Linked DNA regions of Homo sapiens. The protein of the gene in region 3 interacts with the protein of the main gene of each other region in a biochemical or structural test. Each region holds a gene or a part of one and is shown on either strand. Other genes may lie near its edges.

Region 1 (5,275 bases), on a different chromosome or scaffold from region 3:
AAGATGATGGTTGAAAATCTTTGAGATACCAAAGTTTTATTGCTTTACCTAGTTAGGGTATGTCAGATTCTAGTAGGGGTTACTGACAATCCTTTGGCAGTAGCTCACAGGCTGTGTAAAGAACCAGAGTTGTGTTACTTTGTTTTCCAAATTGTTGGTTTTTAAAAATAGCTTTATTGCAATTTAATTGACATAAAATTCACCAGTTAGAGTGTATATATTTCGGTTTTTAGTATTTTCACAGTGTTGTGCCTTGATCACCATCACTAATTCCAGAACATTGTCATCACCCCAAGAAGAAACACCATATCCATTAGCAGTCACTCTGAATTTCACTTCAAATTATCCTTTAAAGTAAGAGATATAGCATCGATTCTGTTAGTAAATATATTCCTTTAGTAAGTATGAAAAGGGCTCCTTTTAAATGTCCTGTCCTGGCAGAATAGGAAACTATATCCTTCATACTCCTTTAGATCCTGGGGGAAATGCCATTTGGAAAGGAAGTCAGTGCAAGAATAAATTGTATACAAATTAATGTGGTTATAATCTTAACTATTTGCTCCATGCCTGATATTATCAAAGTGACCTTGTGAGGATGAGATGTTCAGTGAAACAACTTGAAGGAATTTGTTGTTAAATGACTAGTCCCCAACTATCCTAGTGCTAAGAGGTTGTTGAATAGGAGCCTGCTTCTTGTTGGTCTGCTTTGCCAGCGGGTTGAATTTTGACATATTTCAGTCATCTACATGGTTGAGATGCTTTGTTGCACGAGTGGAAATACAAAATAATGTCTGACATTAGGATTCCAGTGCTCTAGAGGTCTCTGGTCAAGTCAATGGTATGGGTAGTAGCTTTTCTGATTCATGTGGTCCAAGGAAGTCATTATAACCACATAGCTTTATATATGAATCATTTGCCTATGTCAGTGAACTGTGATGCTGATTGTCTTAATCATGAGCTCTTTACCTGAACATTTAGAAGCCTTGCATTCTTACTCTTAATGCAGGTTAAGTTGAACTTTGATTTCAGAAGTGAGTTGACTGAAAGGTAACAGGAGTATTGAAATGAGTTATCCTGTCATTCAGGTCAATAGGTGGAGCTAGAGCAATCCAGGAATCAGACCTAGGTTCATTTCTCAGTTCTGCCATCTGGACTTTGTCATCAAATTCTGGAGCTTTAGGCAAGTGCCTTAATGTTTTTGGCTTTAAAAGTATAAACTGAGGCTGTCAGAACTTTTTTTTATAGAAGGCTTGTTCCTCAGATAGGTGGTTCTTGAGAAAACATACTAGGACAAAAAGAGCCCTTCTTGGGTGATAATCAGAAGCCTAAGTTAAGAACAGTAGTCAAAGTTAGGATTTTGTAATTTTGTAATTTTCAGAAGCCAAAAAAATTGTTGAGTTGAATTTTTTCTTTAATATCCAGACTTAGAAAACAAATGGAAGGCTTCACCATAAGCTAGAGATTCTTGGAAAGGTAGGCTTTTATTTATTCCACAGCATCATGCCTTCTAATGAGACCGTATGCTCCCAGAGACTTTGTGGAAGACATAAAATGAGTTCATTATCCTCAGGAAGCTTATAATCAAGGATTAGACTGAAGGCATCGCTAAACAGTTAATTTATGCTCTTTTAAAAGGTATATGAAAGGGTTCCCGCCAAACAAAAGCCCACTTCACATCTCTGTGCAGGCCAAATTTCACTGAAATCCAGTTTTTAAAATTGTGTGTGTGTGTGTGTGTGTGTGTATGTGTGTATACGTATGTGCATGGAGAGAGACAGAGAGGAGACCCCTTTTTGGAAAACTTAGTAGCTTCCATTCTTTTTCTTGGAGGTGGGTTATATCACAAATACAAGAGATACCTGTGTTTCCTGTTACCCTTTATTATATTTCAGATTTAGTTAAAATCTGCCATTCTTTAGAAAGTCAAGGAACTCAAACCTTACAATGATTGCTAGCGTGGGTTTTAAGGTCAGCCCTGAGTTCTAATCGTGCTCCAATCTAACTGTGGTATAGGCTAGTTCAGGTTATATAACATATTTGGGCCTGTTTTATTATCTGTCAAATGAGAATAATAATAGCACGTAACCTCATAGGGCTGTGAGGTTTAAATTAGGTACTGCATGTAAAGTGCCTGGCACTGTTGTGGTGGCTGGAATGCTAGATACAAGTATTCAGGTAGTTTTTGCTATTGTTATCACTTATATTTAACTTTGAACAAACATAAAATGCCAAGTAAACGTCAAACCAGTTTAATGCACAGTGTCCATTCTAATTCTCCAGAATATGCCATTTGTTTCACTCTGCATCTCTGGGGGGTTTATTTAAAATTCGATCATCTCATGTAATCTGAATTGACTGAGATGATTTATATTAACATTTGGACCAGTAATCCTCTCTATCTTAAAATTTGGAAATGTTCCAGAAGCAAATATTGAAGGGAACATATTTGCCACTTTCACGATTTTTTGCCTTTTCCCACAGGAGAAAATTGCCTAAGCTTTCCTAGGTTTGTTATAGACATCTAAAGGAATGAGAATTTAGGAGCTACGAATAGCTTTATCATGTGACACATTTGAAGAAAATGGAATGCTGTCACATCTTTTAAATTTAGTGTTATTGGGATCTTCGATTCTGTGAAGATTGCAGATTTGTCAGAGACCTGGTAACCACAACAATTCATTGAGGCCTGGAGGCCTCTTAAAAAATGAGGGAGATTATTTATTAGTACCACTTAGAAATATTATCTTTTCTGTATTTTCTGTGGTTTTCTAAGTCTTCTGTTTAGCGTTTCTATGATTATAATGGTGGATTAAATTTCTTGTTCCTTCTCAAGAGCATCTACTATGAGATGACACTGGTTTTTACTTCGGCAGTATTTACTGAGCATTGCACTATACTAATCCAGGTATTCGGTGATGTAGGAACCAAAGGAAATAGAAGTCAGTTTCTACCCTCAGTGAGCTGAGTATAATTTGATAGAAGATAAGGATTAACGTAAGCACATTTATGTCCTAACACAAGGAAGCAAATATTGTTAGTCATTTCATTAGGAATTTCTTTTGTCATTGGGGCATTTGGGGCCTTCCAAACCTTACATCTCTTGCCATGCCTTTGTACTCACTCGATAAACCTGAGAAAGCAAGATATCTTCTTTTCTGATTCCTGGTTTAAGTTGAGAGTGTGGTGCACATTAGTCAAAATCCAAATCATAAGAAAAGGCAAACCTTATGAATTCATTTTGGAATACAACAGGGTATCAAAATAAGTATATGAGAAATATGAAAAGCTGACAGTAGAAAAGATGCTACTCAGGTACTAACCAGAGTTCTCAATCTCCTCTGTATTGAAGCTCTTATGATGTAAGGCTGGATCTGTACTAGAAACACTTTTTAAAGTCTCTCTCCAGTATTGAGAAGTATAGTCCTCCAGTACTGCCTCTTGGTGCTGAGAGACTCAAGCCTGCCACCCACCATATTTCTGGGGAAACTAGAAACGAAAAATAGCCACACACAAGCACTTGCTTTGCTTGGCAGGAAACATCAAAACCATAAGATGTTATTTCCTAAAAGTCATTAATTGGGTAGAAAAATCACCATTTTCTGACTTGTTCCAGGAAGGATGGCTTTCTGATTTTCAGATGCCATTGGGTCAACCAAAGGTAAGATAAAGAAAAGCTACTGCTGTGTGGATTTTTCTGTGACTTGAGAAAGCGTCACTTTTCAGTTAAACAAAAACCAAAGCATCTAGCTTTGGCTGTTACTATTGAGAATTTAAAAGTCTTAATGTTTTAATTTGTTTACATTTTATATTTTGACTAAGTAGTAATGAATTCACTTTGACTCAAAATTCCAAAGATTTAAAAAGATAAAGAATCTCCTTTTCTACTCTGTGTAGCCACCTAGTTCTTCTGCCTGGAAACTGTTAAAATTCCTGTGAATACTTCCAAAGATAGTTTATATATGTTTAAGTATATAATCCTTTGTTCAAAATCCTTGGTCCAGATGTATTTTAGAATGAAGGCTTTTTTTGCAGTTGTGGAAAGATAATGTAGCACATCTACCGTGTTATCCAAAATCCCTAGTAAGAGGTTGTAGCCTCATGATTAAACACATTAACATTTCTGTAAAAAATACAGACATAGGCCAGGCGCGGTGGCTCACGCCTGTAATCTGAGCACTTTGGGAGGCCGAGGCGGGCGGATCACCTGAGGTCAGGAGTTTGAGACCAGCTTGGCCAACATAGTGATACCCCGTCTATACTAAAAATACAAAAATTAGCTGGGCGTGGTAGCGTACGCCTGTAATCCCAGCTACTTGGGAGGTTGAGGCAGGAGAATCTCTTGAATCTAGGAGGCGGAGGTTGCAGTGAGCTGAGATCGTGCCACTACACTCCAGCCTGGGCGGCAGAGGTGTAGACTCTGTCTCAAAAAACAACAACAACAACAACACCCAGAAATAATCAAAGACATTAATATTTTTATAAAAGCATAACAAATACAAGTAGGGTGAATAAAGATTATAAAATCTTATGCTACGTCTCGTCAGGTTTTACCACCAAATACGTTTGTACTAAACTTATTTTAAAAACGTATTTTTCACAGCTTTATGGATTTTGGCTTTGCCAATGAAGGATAGGTGTCATACATATATACAGTACTGTATAGCCTCTGCTCTGCTCCCTCCCTTTTTATTTAATGTAAGTTGTTGCATGCAATATGTATCACCTTTTGCTTTTTTGTTTTTTGCTTGTTGGTTTGTTTTTTGAGACGGAGTCTCACTCTTGTTGCCCAGGCTGGAGTGCAGTGGCACAATCTCAGCTCACTGCCACCTCTGCCTCCGAGGTTCAGGTGATTCTCCTGCCTCAGCCTCCTGAGTAGCTGGGATTACAGGTGATCCACCTGCCTTGGCCTCCAAAGTGCTGGGATTACGGGTGTGAGCCACCGCACGTGGCCTGCTTTTTGTTTTAATATAGCTGAGAGATTATTTTATATCAGTCATATCAGTATGTAAATGGCATGCTTTTTTAACATCTTTGTGGTATTCCATTTGTCTTACTCTGTTTGGGCTGCTATATCAAAATACCATAACTTGAGTGGTTTAAACAACAGAAATTTATTTCTCACAGTTCTGGAGGTCGGGAAGTTCAAGATTAGGCTACTTAGTCAATTTGGTTCCCTGGTGAGGGTCCTTTTCCTGGCTTTATAGGTGGCCGGCTTCTGGATGTATCCTCACATGGCCCCTAAGAGCTCTAGTCTGTTCCTCATCCTATCATGGGG
Region 2 (5,275 bases), about 61 Mb from region 3:
CTGAGGTGGGAGGATAGCTTGGGACCAGGAAGTCGAGGCTGCAGTGAGCCATGATTGCGCCACTGCATTCCAGCCTGTGTGACAGAGCGACACCACATCTCAAAACAAACAAACAAAACAAAACAAAACAACACACATACAGATGTCAATGTATAAACTGAGTGGGGAGAAATAGGTGAACTATACCTCTCTCTTCTATGTCTGATAACATCAGATGTGAATACTTCTTTCTCCCATGTCTCTGTCAGTGACCCTGGCTACTTGGTATTAAGCAAAATATTTACTTTTACATTCATAAGTAATAAGTAAATGAGAATGTAATCTGTTTTCTATTTTTTACTAACAACTGAGGAAAAACAGTATTTTGTTTAGTGAGGAATATCTGAAATGAACTGAGCTTAGAGCCCAACTGACACAGCAGAGTTCCCGCTGGTGTGAAGCTCATTATTAGCACCTTGGAATAATGAATTCATTCAGTCAACGCTCCATTGTCTATGTGGATATATATGAGTCACAGAATTGACATACATATAATCCAAAAGTTGTTTGTGAAATCTTTTAAATGACAGTGGAGGGAAGGGGTCCTAACTAAGAAAGGGCAGATAGGATGCTTTTGCAGTGCTGCCAGTGTTCTATTTCTTGACCACCCACTAGGTTAAACGTGTTCACCTTGAGATAAATCACTAAAGTTGCAGCATTAATATTTGTGTACTTTTTTAGCTATGGGATTCTTCAACTTAAAAAAGGCTAATGTAAAAATAAAGTTTCTCTTTCTATTTTTTTTTTCCTTTTTTGAGACAGTCTTGCTTTGTTGCCTAGACTGGACTGCAGTGGCACAATCGCTGCTCACTGAAGCCTCAACCTCCCAGGCTCAAGTGAACCTCCTACCTCGGCCTCCTGAAGAGCTGGGACCACAGGCATGTGCCACCATGCCCAGCTAATTTTTAAATTTTTTGTAGAGACTGGGGTCTCGCTATTTTGTCCATGCTGGTCTCAAATTCCTGGGTTTAAGCAATCCTCCCTTCTCGGCCTCCTGAAGTACTGGGATTACAGATATGAGCCACTACGCCCAGCAAGAAAATTTTAAAAACTGAAAAGACTACATGATTTAAGCTCCATGAATTTCTGGATTTCTGTCTTGTTTGGCACTGTGTGCCTTGTCCTTAGAACTGTGTCTGGCACATAGAAAGGACTCAACATATATTCAAATAAATCACTGTTAAAGAAATAAAACCCTACTTATGTTAATCAGCTTGATTTAATCATTTCACAATGCATATGTATATCAAAACATCATCTTGTGTACCATAAACATATATAATTTCTGTCAACTGTACTATACTAAAGCTGGAGGTCAAAAAAAAGGAAGGAAAAAATAATAAAAAAATAAAAATCACACTATACGAAGATGGAAGAGCTTCTATAAACAAGCAATGCTTCCCCTACTCCACCCCTCCTCATCTCCAATCCTGCTTTTTAAAGGCTGACTTTTTAACACTCTTTTTCTTTTTAGTTTACCTGGTGGTTCTTTTCATATCTCCAAGATATGCTTCTGTCTTTTTTCTTGATGTAGGACGTTGTGTTCCTTCTAGGAAGGAACAGAGGAGGATTCAGCTCATACTACCACCACCTCCCCTTCTTCTCCCTCCAAATATAGTTATAATTAGTGAGACCTTGAATCAATCTAGCATTTAAATATTAAACTTTACATTCAATTTTTGTCTCAAGTTTTCCATAAATTTCTTTGGAGAAATATGAATGCGAGAGACTGAATAATAATGAAAAAATGCAACACCAGAAACATCTGGATTTGAGAAAGAACCTACACTGAGACCAAAAATTATAACTTATTATCGACAAAATGGGCAGTTCCTCATATTATCATACTGATAATCAAGAATTGGCTTGGTACTTACTCACATGCATTTTTCTTAAGTTGACCTATCTTGATATGGCAAGAAAATCTGAAGTCTTCCAATTAATACAATTACATCAAAGAAACACATAATTTTAGAGAGAGATGCTCATTTTGTCAAACCTCATTTTTTTTACAGAACAAAAATAAGACTCAGAGAAGTTAATTAACTTGCTCAGAGCCACACAGTTAATTGGCAGCACTGTCTCTTGATATCTTGTTCGGTATTTACTTATTCAGCAAACACACCAGGTGCTGTGCAAATAAAAAGTAAATAAGATGAACTCCTTGCCCTCAAGATGTTTCTTTTCTAGGACCCACAGGAATTCAGGAGAACACAGAATGGGGGCACATAACTCTTTATGGAAAGGGGAGGGAGAAAACAGAAAGGCAAGTGAGAGAAATGGTGATGCTCAAACCAGGCCTAAGGGTTTAGAAGTTAGCAGGATGGCTAGGAAAGAAAAGGCACTTCTCATACAGGGAGGGCATAAGCAAAGGCATTCAAAGTCAGAAACTGTGGATAGGAAACTGAAAGTCGGTGTGGAGGATTTGAGATTAGGGGATGGTTGGGGAACACCGGAGGGAGTAAGGGGGTGAGGTGTGCGAGAATCAGCTTGTGAAGACAACTGGGATTCACTGCAGAGACATGATCCGATTTACACTTTAGAAAGCTGACCATTATGCGAAATGAACGATGGGTTAGAAGCAGGAGACAATGCAAAAATAAAATCTAGAAATTCAACGAGGAAGGGATGGATTCTGGAGATGAGGAGGCTGCCTTGATAGAACTTGGTGACTGACTGAAGAAGAAAGCTGAATGTATAAGAAGGGCTTCTAGATTTCTGGCATGAGAAATCTACTGAATGGACCCTAACAGGCTAACAACCGCATTCCCTAATGTGCTGGGGATACCAATCTGTGCAAAGGGGTGGGGATCAAGGATGATGAGAAATTTAATATTGGCATATAGATGTGAAGATACTTAAGTGCCTCAGCAATAAAATCATTTCTGTAGCTTGCCTTGAATGACTGGACTCCTACAGTTCAACAGATACTCAGTAAATATAGCACAATTACTCCAAAAGTCATCTATTTCAACACAGGATTGAACTACCTCTCTAAGCAACTTGGATTGACTCCTATTTGGCTATTACAGAAGACTTTCTAAGAGAAATGGGATACTTCCCCACCCATCACAAAAAAAGAATTGTAACTGCAGGGTAAATGATTATGTAATGGTTTAAAATAGGAAATATTTTTAAAGTTTCTAAGGATTGCTTTTTAAATTTGGTTAAATGTCTTAAATGGGAAATCGAGTAAATATATAAAGAGACACCATAAAGACATTATCTCAAATTAACGCTATGATATGGTATGAGAGTGAGTAAATGCATTTGACTATTGTTGGACTGCTGTGCTTTTGATTTTAATTTCCCAGGTACTTATATTTGCTTGATCGCAACTGACTTCTAAAGTGTTTTTTCATAATGTGGTGAAAAGTCCATTCTTACCAGTTTAGCAAAAATATGATAATCCATTATGAAATGTCTGCCGAAAGGTTCTATCCAAGGGCAATCTCTCTTACTTCTTTCATTATGACCCTCCATGAGATGAGATATACAATTTATCTCATTGTATTTCTCAACCATGAGATATATGATTTGTCCTTTTATTTATAATTCTCATTCACTTTCTAGATTATTCTATCTTCACATTCAAGTTGATAACAAAGTTTAAGTCTTAGTTTTATAGAGGACTCTTCCCCCTAAATCTTTATGCTTTCATTATCCTTTGCTTTGACCAATCTTTCAAAAGACTCAGGTTTAAAATCACATACACATATACAAACGATGCTTAACCTATTCACCTTATCATGTATTAGCAGTATAATAAATGAATGCATTAAATGAATAGGGTAGAGAAATGGCTATATTTTTGGTTCATTTTAAGCCATCTCCTCTGAAAAGTAGTTCCCCAGGTTTTTTGCTTGGTTTGAAATTAGCAGTATGAACACACTAAAAATTTTTTTCCTATTTCCTAGATTGTATATTCAGTTTTCAGTTTTGATTTTACGTAAATCAATTGCTGATTTAAGTACTTTCCTGACTATCCAACTGAGCAAAAAATTAAGTGTAATTTAATTTTAATTCTTAACATTGCTTTCAACTTCTAATTTCCTCTACATAAATAGCCACCCACACATGCTTCTTCCATCATTCCACATCATCATCATTTTAATTTTATAAATCATGAAGGTTCTTGTATTATATGCAGATGCTATAAATTGTAAGGTATTCTCCTCTGGCCTCATTACCAAGTCCATACCCCATTTAAAAGAAAAAGACACTGAAGGTTATAGATCAAGTCTTAACAGTCAAACACCAATACATGTTTAAGCCTTACAAAATAAGCCTATACTTAAGAACTGGTAGACAAAGAGGTTCTTCAAATATCAATAAAACATGATTTGGGAATTTGTGTTAAAACATCCAAAAATAGTTATTTTCTCATTCCTAAAATTCTTGTCATGGAAGACATATTTTCTAAGACAATTAAGTAATCTATTTTCACTATTTAAATGAACTGCAGGCTTGGGCTTAGAACCAATAAATAGGTTGATTAGGGAGTCTGTCATCACTTTTATGTTTTCTTTTTTACATACTTGTTATATGGTAGAATTGACGTCTGGGATAAAGAGGGATAGGTGTGCCCTAACACTGAAATATGGTATAGTATTTTCAGTCCAAATGACATGATAAATAATAAAAATAATTTTTTGAAATAACTGCTTTTAACAAATAAAAGTCATTAAAAACAAATTGCTTTTTAAAATGGGACATTATAGAGGTATGCTCAACTTTATGCAGGTCTTATACTTTCTTTAGTTCAAGTTAGTGAAAAGTAAATCCTAGAAATATTAGTGAGCCTCATTTATCAAAAAGGTTCACCTTGGCCAAGCTAGGTGGCTCACGCCTGTAATCCCGGCACTTTGGGAGGCTGAGGCGGGTGGATCACTTGAGGTCAGGAGTTTGAGACCAGCCTGGCCAACAGAGCAAAATCCCATCTCTACTGAAAAAAAATAAAAAATAAAAAATAAATTACAAAAAAAAGGTTCATCTCAAAGAAAAATCTAATAGCTTTATTTTCCAATATGAAATGCATGAATTGTCCATACATTTCTACTAGTAGCGTAAGGATTATAACAAAGTTAGAGCCTTGTTTGTTTTGTTTATGCTTCTCTTCATGCCCAGAAGCTGCAGACTGAACTCGTAAGGGAACACACAAAAATTTATCTTTTTCTGGAAGCCATCTCATGGGGAAGTCACAGGCAGAGTGCCTGGATTATTTTATTATTTTAAC
Region 3 (5,712 bases):
TTGTTTATCATAACTTGCAACATCCTAGAAATGGCATCGTTCGTGAAGGATGGTATTTGTGGCGAGAATGGGGAAACCTCCAGGCTGGGGAAATGCCGAGAGAACACAGGTGGCAGTAGAGTACAGTGGGTTGATCATAGGGCGGAAGGTGGTGGGGTACAAGTACAAGATTTCAATTGCTGTTCTTTCGTTGTCCATGTACTGTATGACCCCGAAGTCACCGACAGTCTTCGTAAACTGGATGTAACCACGTCTCTAGATATTTGCTGAGAGCCTTTGAGAGACGACTCTAAAGTTGAGATCCTTTCCACAGAAGGTTTTTAGGTCCTATGCTTTTATTCCCTCTTCTAATGGATACTTTTAACTGAATAAATTCACCTTCAAGGAGCCAATGTGAACTGGCTTTCTGAAATTTTTATAAAGTGGTAATTGAAAAGCTGGATGGTGAGGTGGGAGGATTGCTTGAGCCTAGGAGTTTGAGGCTGTAGTGAGCTATGATCACGCCACTGCACTCCAGCCTGGGCAACAGAGTGAGATCCTGTTTCTGAAAAAAAGAAAGCTTGATGAGCTAAAGTGCAAAATACTGGTGTTTACACTTAGCTGGAGTAATGTGAATACTGACTCCAAAATTACTTGGGAAAAAACTATTGCATATATTGTAAGAATCCACATGTACAAACATAAAATATTTTTAAACTGGTACTTTTTGTCATGTTTCAACCTTTTGATGACTGTTTTCTTTTCCTGCCACCAGAAAAACAGCATATGAACATTGAATTCTTTTATTTTTCTGTTACCACAGGAATGAATACTGAAAGCCTTGTCATAATATTAGAATAATGATGTGTGTGGACTATCCTGAGTACTGGATATCTAAATTTATCTTTTAAGAAAAATGGAAGGGAGAGCATCAGGAAGAATAGCTAATAGATACTGGGCTTAATACCTAGGTGATGGGTTGATCTGTGCATCAAACCACCATAGCACATGTTTACCTGTGTAACAAATCTGCACATCCTGCACACGTACCTGGAACTTAAAAGTTGAAGGAAAAAATAAGAAAAATGGTATGTCGTGTCTCTGTACCTTTTTCAATTTCATTTTAAAAATAGACAATACCTGGCCGGGTACGGTGGCTAACACCTATAATCACAGCACTTTGGGAAGCTGAGGCGGGCAGATCACTTGAGGTCAGGAGTTTGAGACCAGCCTGGCCAAGAGGTAAAACCCCCGTCTCTAAAAAAATACAAAAATTAGCCGGGTGTGGTGGCTCCCGCCTGTAATCCCAGCTACTGGGAAAGCTGAGGCAGGAGAATCACTTGAACCTGGGAGGTGGAGGTTACAGTGAGCCAAGATCGCGCCACTGCACTCCAGCCTGGGCAAAAGGGTGAGACTCCGTCTCAAAATAAATACATAAATAAAATAAATAAATAAGTAAATAAATAACAAAACAAAACTGGACAATACCCTTGTGATATAACACCTTAAGTTTTCCGGGGGCGGGGGAGGGGAGCAGGTGGGACAGACTTTTAGGAAAATATTGTAATAAGTTATTACTGGTTATGGGGGGAATACTTATTTTCCTACATGGGGTTAGGAAACCAGCATTTGTTCAGTGCCTAGTATTATTATTATTATTATTATTTTTGAGACAGAGTTTCAGTCTGTCACCCAGGCTGGAGTGTAGTGGCGCGATCTTGGCTCACTGTAACCTCCACCTCCCAGGTTCAAGTAATTCTCCTGCCTCAGCCTCCTGAGTAGCTGGGATTCCAGGTGCCCGCCACCACGCCTGGCTAATTTTTGTAATTTTAGTAGAAATGGGGTTTCACCATGTTGGCCAGGCTGGTCTCCAAGTCCTGACCTCAGGAGGTCCACCAGTCTCGGTCTCCCAAAGTGCTGGGATTACAGGCGTGAGCCATCACGCCTGGTCTGTTCAGTGCTTTTTATGTGTCCTATTATCCTATTAAGGTTTTGTATATATCATCTTATGCTGTAAGCATCTATGCATAAATGTCAGCTGTCTAAGAAAACCCCTCTGAAAAGGTAGATGCTCGTGATTTCACAGCAATAGAGCTTTAAACTTTTATCTTATATGAAAATATCTTTAATTGATTCCATTATTATTCAGTAAGCATTCTCTTTTAAAGCATCTTTGATTTGTTATTTAGAATTAAATTTGATTGGAACTGCATATCTTCAGAATGATTTGAATGTTTTCAAGAAGGTTCTATCCAGATTTTAAAACTGTTTTGTGTTCATTTATTTTCAATAATGTTGCACTACCAACAAATGAAATTAGATGTCAGAAGATAAACCCAGATTAGCCATTTTGATTTTAATGTGTTATTAGTGCATATTCTGCATGCTGATATGTGTTGACGGCATTTCTCTCAGCCGAAATGGTTTGTCAGAGGCAGAGTAACAGACTCTCCATAATAAAGGGTCTGGGGGGATTTGGAGGAAAGACTACTAACCAGGGACCCCAAAGACTTGCCTTTGGGGCTGGCTTGTCCCTTACTTCAATTCACTGTGTTACCTGGAAAAAGTCAGTTATGTCTCTGGGCCTGTTTTCCCATCTGTAAAATGAGAGAGCTGCAGTCACCCTCTGGTTGTCTATCGGGTCCTTCTTGTCCCAGTCTAGAGATCTGTGATGCAGCCATTCGAGGAGAGAGGTCTTCGTTTAAGAGCAGGGGTCCCCAGCCCCCTGCTTCGGACCTGAACTGGTCAGTGGCCTATTAGGAACCGGGCCATAGAGCAGGAGGTGAGCGGCGGGCAAGTGACCTTTACCACCTGAGCTCCACCTCTGTCAGATCAGTGGTGGCATTTGATTCTCACAGGACTGTGAACCCTGTTGTGAACTGCACATGTGTGGGATCTTGGTTGTGCACTCCCTATGAGAATCTACTGCTTGTTGATCTGAGTTGGAACAGTTTCATCCCAATCCCCAACCCCATCCGTGGAAAAATTGTCTTCCATGAACGCTGTCTGGAGACCACTGGTTTAGAGCATTATTTGGAGGTGATTTTGTGTTTCCCTGTCTGGTTTGTCACTGCTTTGTCCAATGCCCTTCTTTTTTTGCCCAATTCCTACTTCCCTTATAGTTTTCATTTGTTATAAAATGGTTGTCATAAAATTAACTTTATGGCCCTGCCAGTCTAGTTAGCAGATAAGGTAATGATTAGATTTGGGTAAAGTGTATTCGACATTTGAAACTACTTCATAGCATTTTCTGCGGGGAGACTTTCTGCTCTTGAGCACACAGATAGTCTGAGAAAGAAACCTCTACCTAGGCTGCAGGGGAGGGGGTCCTGTGCTTTGCTTCCCAGGCCCACCCTTGTGAAATTTTGGCAAGCCTTTCCTGTGTCCCAGCCTTTGTCTCCTCGCCTCGATGAGAAATGCAGCCCTTGGTCTCTGGAATACGACTTTCACTCTCATTTGACGTTAGCCCTGTCACTGTGTTGGACAGATGCCTGTGATTGGCTGCTGCAGTAGCAGGAGTGGTGGCTGGTGAAATGTGTCTACTCAGTGTCATTAGCAGGATCATGAGCTTTTTTTTCTTTTTTCTTGGCAAGCTGCGATGGGGCAGAGAGCAAAGGAAACCAATCCCATTTGGTGTTTTTAGTGCATTTTGCTTTCAAGAGGCTCACAAAACTCAGCCTCATTAACCTTTAAGTGAGTCAGTGAGGAGTTGTTATCCCATTGAAATAATTTTTAATAAAGGGAGAGTGACTCTAGTTCCTCTAATAACCAGGCTCCAGGGTTCCTGGACCCCTGTTAGGAGTGGGTCATTAACTCCAGACATTAGATGAGAGCTGGGAGAGAGGAAGGGCATAGAGGGTGGAAGGTCAAGTCACACAACTGGGCAGGAAGTAAGAAGCTTGATCAGTTTAAAGGTATTAGAGCTCTTTGTGTGTAGAGTTACAGGAGATATTCCCTTTCTATATAATTTATTTCCATGGTGTTTGAATCTTATCTTGTTTTCTGTAATGGACGTATATTTATTTTATAATCAGAGAAAAATCCCAATATATAATTTATTGATATATAAAATGTACAGATTCACATGGACAAATACGAGAAGAGAACATGGAAAGAAATGAATGGTATAGAAAAGGATGGATTAAAGCTTTTCTTTGTTGTTGGTTAATGACTTGACAGTGGTTATAAACAAAGTTTACCAGTTCTACCCTCTCTTTTCCTCTTGTGGAAATCTTGCAAACTTTGTTTGCTAGGTAATAACTGAAGTTCCCGAAGTGTAACTCATTGGCAAGTATGCTTCAGGAATGCTTAGAGTGGGAGGAAGAGTGTCGTTTTTTTTAAGTTGATGAAAAAGAATGCAGAAACCGGGAGCAGTGGCTCATGCCTGTAATCCTAGCACTTTCGGAGGCCAAGGCAGGTGGCTCACTTGAGGTCGGGAGTTTGAGACCAGCCTGGCCAACATGGTGAAACCCCGTCTCTGCTAAAAATACAAAAATTAGCCGGGCATGGTGGCACACGCCTGTAATTTCAGCTACTCAGGAGGCTGAGGCAGGAGAATCGCTTGAACCCAGGAGGTGGAGGTTGCTGTGAGCTGAGACCGCGCCACTGCACTCCAGCCTGGGTGAAAGGGCGAGACTCTGTCTCAAAAAAAAGAATGCAGAATATTGGAATCGAGGTAGAAGGAAAAACGTGTGTTTAAGAGGGTGAGATAGATTGGAGAGACTTTGCGGAATTCCAGAGGGTAAAGGGAAATGCCATTGTTGAAGAAGGAAGGCCTGGCATTACTGGAGGTATGGGATGTGTCCCTGTCGTGTAAGTCAGAGCTCAGTTTCCACACAATATAAAAGTAAATGAGTATCTCCTATATGCAGAGCATAATGTTAGCCCCACAGGTCATTTATTGTTGGTTAGTGGTTTTCACTGTTCTTATCACAATGATGATAATGATGTAGTGAATATGTCATAATTGTTCAAATAAGAAGATATGTCCTTTTCTCTGATACTATGCCTTTCTCATTTTTGGGTAAGATTCTTTTATGATTTGATAGGAATATTTTTATCTAGCCGCTGAATGGTCCATGAAATTGGTAAGTCTGGGAATCTGGGCCTGAGATGCAGGGAGGCCTGCCCTTGGGATTGAGTTGAGTCATGGAGGCCAGGCCAACATGTGGAGTTTGTGGGTCAGCTGATGGGGCCCCTGGGCTTTCCAGGAATATAGAGTCACCCAAGGTCCTAGGAACTGTGAATGAGCTAATTTTGAAAGTGCCCTAGGAGCCAGTGACTATTTTTGAATTATAGCTTGAGAATGACAAGGAAAGCACCAAGATGAAAGATGAGGGTGTAAGGGAACAGAATGGGCAAGTGGTTGAAGTGTGAATTTCAGCAGGTGAACCTCAAGATGTATCTTGACATTTGATTCTTTGCATGCAGGCCTCTTTCTGGCAAAACAACACTCTTTAGCAATTCTTAGTTAGTGATTCTAGGAAATGGTGATGGGTGAAAGCCATAGAACCTAGAATTGTGTAATAGCCAGCTTGGCCCAGACCTCTGCAGTATCATTCCCTCCAGGGTGAGCCTTGAATTGCTGGAGGAAGCTTCAGAATGATTTGCTCATGGAATTGCTGTTATTCACCTTTAGTTTTGGTTGCTATTGTGGGGTGAAGAAGGAGTGTCAAAACAATAACAACAAATTATTTCCTTTTTTTTTTTTTTTTTTTTTTTTTTTGAGACGGA
Region 4 (4,032 bases), on a different chromosome or scaffold from region 3:
TGGCCAAGTTGTGAAGAAAACAGACAAATTTCATGGAGTTTCTTATAGTGGGTAGACAGAAAAAATAGACACATAATGTGTACAATAATATTAAGTGTTGTGGAGAAAAAATAGAGGGGAAGGGGAATAAGAATGGGGTGACACCATGAAGACAGGGATAACGTGAGCAGAGACTAAAAATCAGTGAGGAAGAAAGGCATGCTGGTTTCTGGAAGGAAAGCATTTCAGCAGAGGAAACAGCAAATATGCACCCCTTGAGTTGGGAGTGTGCTTGGCATGTTCGAGGAACAGAGGAAGACTAGAGTGGCTTCTAGTGGATAAAGTGCTGGAAGTTGAGATTAGAGAGGTAGCTGGAGACCAAATTATAAGAGAAGTAGGGTAGAAAAAAATTAACCTTAGTGAGCTGAGAAGCTGTATCAGTTAGCTTTTGCTGAGTAACATGTAATCCTGAAACTTAGTGGCTTAAAATAAACTTTTACTATCTTTTGCATTGCTGTGAGTGAAATGTGCAGTTTCTTCTCCTCTGAATTGGCACAGCTGGGGCTGGATAGTCTGGGATGGCCTCACTTACATGTCTAACTAACTAACTGCTGGATGCCGGTTCTGGGAGTGACTACGTGTCTCTCATCATCCAGCAGGCTAGCCCAGGAGCCGTTCCCTATGATGGAAGTTGCAGGGTTCCAAAGATCAACAAGGAAAGGCAAGCCCCAGTGCAAAGCACTTTCCAAATTGGCCAAGGCCAGTCACATGGCCAAAGTCAGAGGTCATATGGGAGGGGTGATCCCCTCCAGGTGTAGATTCTGAGAGTGGAGTTCTGACGGCTGCTTTTGCAAATGACAATAATGTCTGAAAAGTGACATTATCTGATTCATAGTTTCAAAGGTCCTGTGATAATAAGGATTACGTAAGGAAGACTATAGCCAGATGGGAGGATGTGGCAAGGCTATGGGCCACTGGAGGGCAATGGTGTTTGTTTGTTCGACTGCTCTGCACCACAGATGCAGAGGCACAGAAGTTCAAGACATTGTCTGGCCTGAAGCTGCCATGATCAGGAGGGGGAACAATGACACCCAGCCTCCACACCTTCCTGGTATTTCAGCAGAAGCATTTTCTCCGTCTTGCCAGAGTGGACTTTCTCATGTGCTTGCTGGAACGGGCTGGAAATCATGGTGTCCATGAGATGGGATGCGCAGATAAGAGCTTCTGCACAGCTCCCATTCTCAAACATAGAGATACCCGCTAATCACTAAGTACTTGCTAATTGCAGGGGAGCAGACCATTGAGGACTAAAATAACTCACTGTAAGTAAGTAATAACAAAACATCTTAAGGTGAAATGAAACAATAGTCATTTTTCTTTTTTCTTTCTTTAACAGAAAATATGCTGGCATGCTAATCGCGTGAGACAACTTGGCCCACGGACAGCCACAAAGCACAAAAACAAAACACAAACTCACTCAGAGAAGAAACAAGAATCGTGTTTTCCTGGCATCTACGAGAAGCGCTTTATTAGAAGCGCTTTATTTTTCCTCTAGATTTCTTTTCTAAAAAATGAAAAACAAAAACAAACTGAAACAAACATTTAAAGAAACAATACAAACTTCAGGTGATGATATTCAAGCATGTTCTTTTATTAAGCATAGGATGCGAGGCACAGCAGGAGGTTTAAGTACAATGTGAAAGCAAGAGAACTGAGACTGTGATTGACAGACAAAGGGATTAACTAACGTTTTATTCTCTGCCCCCCAAAATATCCTGTGTATTCTTAAGTATATACGCTTCCCTTCCTGCCTTTCAAGGTATCTAAGGAATGATTTGAAAAATTTGTTATAATCTCTAAAGAATTTTTTGCATAGCATTAGCAAAGGAGTCTATGACAAGTACTTTGCCACCTGGTAGTTCTGCGTATTCTACTCCCTCTGGGTGTCACTGTCATCCTCACTGGCTGGGACAAGGTTCTGAGATTTGTCTCCCCAGCAGTTGCTAAGCTGGCTCAGTCTTGGTCAGGATGAATGAAACAATTATCTCCTGGATCAATGCAGCAAGGAGCAGTGAACACTTGCTTTTTCTTCCCTAAGTAGGAGAAGGCCAGCCCCCGGCTGCAGTGGTGGCCGTGGTGGTAGCTGGATGGGACGAGGGGACCTCAGGCTATTCTATAACAGTAAAAGAAAGAGAATTGCTGGTGCTTCTCCAGGGAGATACGGAACCTACACACCAAGCAGGTTTTTACTTTCAAACAGGCCACCACCAGAAAGCAAAGAGACCTATGCCTAGCCCAGCCCCAGAAAAGTGATACTTTACCCCAGGAATTCCCTGCTTCCCATTGGTACTTAAGATTTTTCACTCTGTTGTGACTGCTCTTATTTCCTTTACTCTTGCGGATCTGTGTTGGAGGGACATTTGGAAGGGGCCCAGCCCTGGCACTTGCGTGAGGGGACACACACAGGGCGGGTGTGTGTGCCCATCCGCTCTGAGCTCCACTTAGCCGGACTGGCTGCCAAGCCGTTCTTGGATCAGCCTCTCGCTGAGCGCCCACAGGGTCCGGGCCGTCTCTTCGCTCTGAGCTTCTGGTGAGGGCATGCAGCGGCAGCAGTTGTTGAAGTACATCCCTCCCAGACCCTCCAGTTCTGGGACAGCAGCACAGTACACGGTGGTGGCAGCTCCCTGTTGCTGGAAATCCAAGAAGAAAGACAAAAAAAAATTTTAAGAAAAGGAGTGATGAGATGGCGTCATTTCGACTGCCTGGGCATTAGCAGGCCTCCCCCACCTGGTTCAGTTTCAGCTGGATCTTGGCATAGCAAAGGGTACTGGGCTGAAAGCACATGACTGTAAAAAGTATAATGTGACTATCCTGGAAAAACGAGTTCATAAACTCCGCTTGTAAAGCTGGTGTAACTTTTGACACCTCATACAGGGACAGGCTTGGAAAATAAATACACATATCAATACGTCGTGGCAGGCGCCTCTTCCACACAGAGAAAAAGATGGTATCCTTCTGAACGTGCAAGAACAAATTCATCCAACCCCTCAACTTCTCCATGTATAATGTAATTCGATACCAAATCGTTTGTAGAACCTTCTGTCTGACAAACCAACCACTCTTAATTGTGGTCCATCAGGTAGAAAACCCAAGTGGGGCTGCTGCCAGATCATCCCTTTATGCTTTGCCCACGGTGCTGCTAGGGGAAGGGTTGGCAATGTTGTGTTAAAACATTTAATGCACACACACACACACACACACACTCCTCACCATACATTCATACTTAGCACAAACACATAACACATTAATTCATCCAGATCCCATGAAAACCTTTTTCTAAATGTCATATTTGACCCAGATTTACAATGGGACCACAGGTAAGGGGGTACATTTCCTCCCAGCCCACTTCAAAATGTAAGTTGCAAAGAGTGCAGCTGATCACTTTCATTCACCTTTTGAGTAACAGTTGCGGCTGTGGCTAGGGACGTGTGCAGTGATGAGGCATCATATCATCCAAACTGACAGAATACTGTCAGGGATGCTATAAAGAGGGCAAGAAATCACTTTGCTTTGCAAGCCATAATTAAAAATAATAGGCTGCTGTTCAGAGGGAGACATGGTCGGCACGTCTCTAATTTAAAACCAATACAGTTTATCTGGCATCTTATGATTATTTATGTGTTTCAGAGCCCTAGCTGCATCCACTAATTTTCAGCTGATGAGAGGGAGAGGGGTTGCAAGAGAGGACCGGAAAAGGTAACTGAAGATAAGCTCGCCCCCACAAGGAAAACACTAAGGAACTTTGATTGTGGGGGAAATGGCTTTCCGACCCGACCCAAAGCTTATCATTTTTCTGCCCCTGCAGGGTTTACATTGTGACCATGCAGGGTGCTTACTGGAGGAGTTTCCCTCAAATGGTCTGGTTTGCAATCACTATGCTTGCATTCTAGGATCCCTGGGAGAGTCAGGTCCATACTGAGAAATAGGGTCCCAAGGAAGGTGTTACGACGTGAAGAATCTGCCATAAGGCAGACTTGGGTTTGTTGTTGTCAT

What was found.
Region 1: the proteins of APBB2 (region 3) and MAPK8 form a complex in vitro, tested with the Homo sapiens proteins (one study listed by BioGRID).
Region 2: the proteins of APBB2 (region 3) and NFKB1 form a complex in vitro, tested with the Homo sapiens proteins (one study listed by BioGRID).
Region 4: the proteins of APBB2 (region 3) and WWOX form a complex in vitro, tested with the Homo sapiens proteins (one study listed by BioGRID).

The regions. Positions count from the first base shown.
Region 1 is NC_000010.11:48,309,011-48,314,285, forward strand, and holds part of MAPK8 (mitogen-activated protein kinase 8), read left to right. Parts: intron 1-5,275. UniProt on the Homo sapiens protein: Serine/threonine-protein kinase involved in various processes such as cell proliferation, differentiation, migration, transformation and programmed cell death.
Region 2 is NC_000004.12:102,507,193-102,512,467, reverse strand, and holds part of NFKB1 (nuclear factor NF-kappa-B p105 subunit), read right to left. Parts: intron 1,589-5,275; exon of another isoform or gene 1,536-1,588; coding exon of another isoform or gene 1,519-1,535; intron 1-1,518.
Region 3 is NC_000004.12:41,207,191-41,212,902, reverse strand, and holds part of APBB2 (amyloid beta precursor protein binding family B member 2), read left to right. Parts: intron 1-5,712. UniProt on the Homo sapiens protein: Plays a role in the maintenance of lens transparency, and may also play a role in muscle cell strength. Involved in hippocampal neurite branching and neuromuscular junction formation, as a result plays a role in spatial memory functioning.
Region 4 is NC_000016.10:79,210,245-79,214,276, reverse strand, and holds the end of WWOX (WW domain-containing oxidoreductase), read right to left. Parts: exon of another isoform or gene 2,670-4,032; coding exon 2,481-2,669; 3' UTR 1,610-2,480; downstream 1-1,609. UniProt on the Homo sapiens protein: Putative oxidoreductase. Acts as a tumor suppressor and plays a role in apoptosis. Required for normal bone development. May function synergistically with p53/TP53 to control genotoxic stress-induced cell death.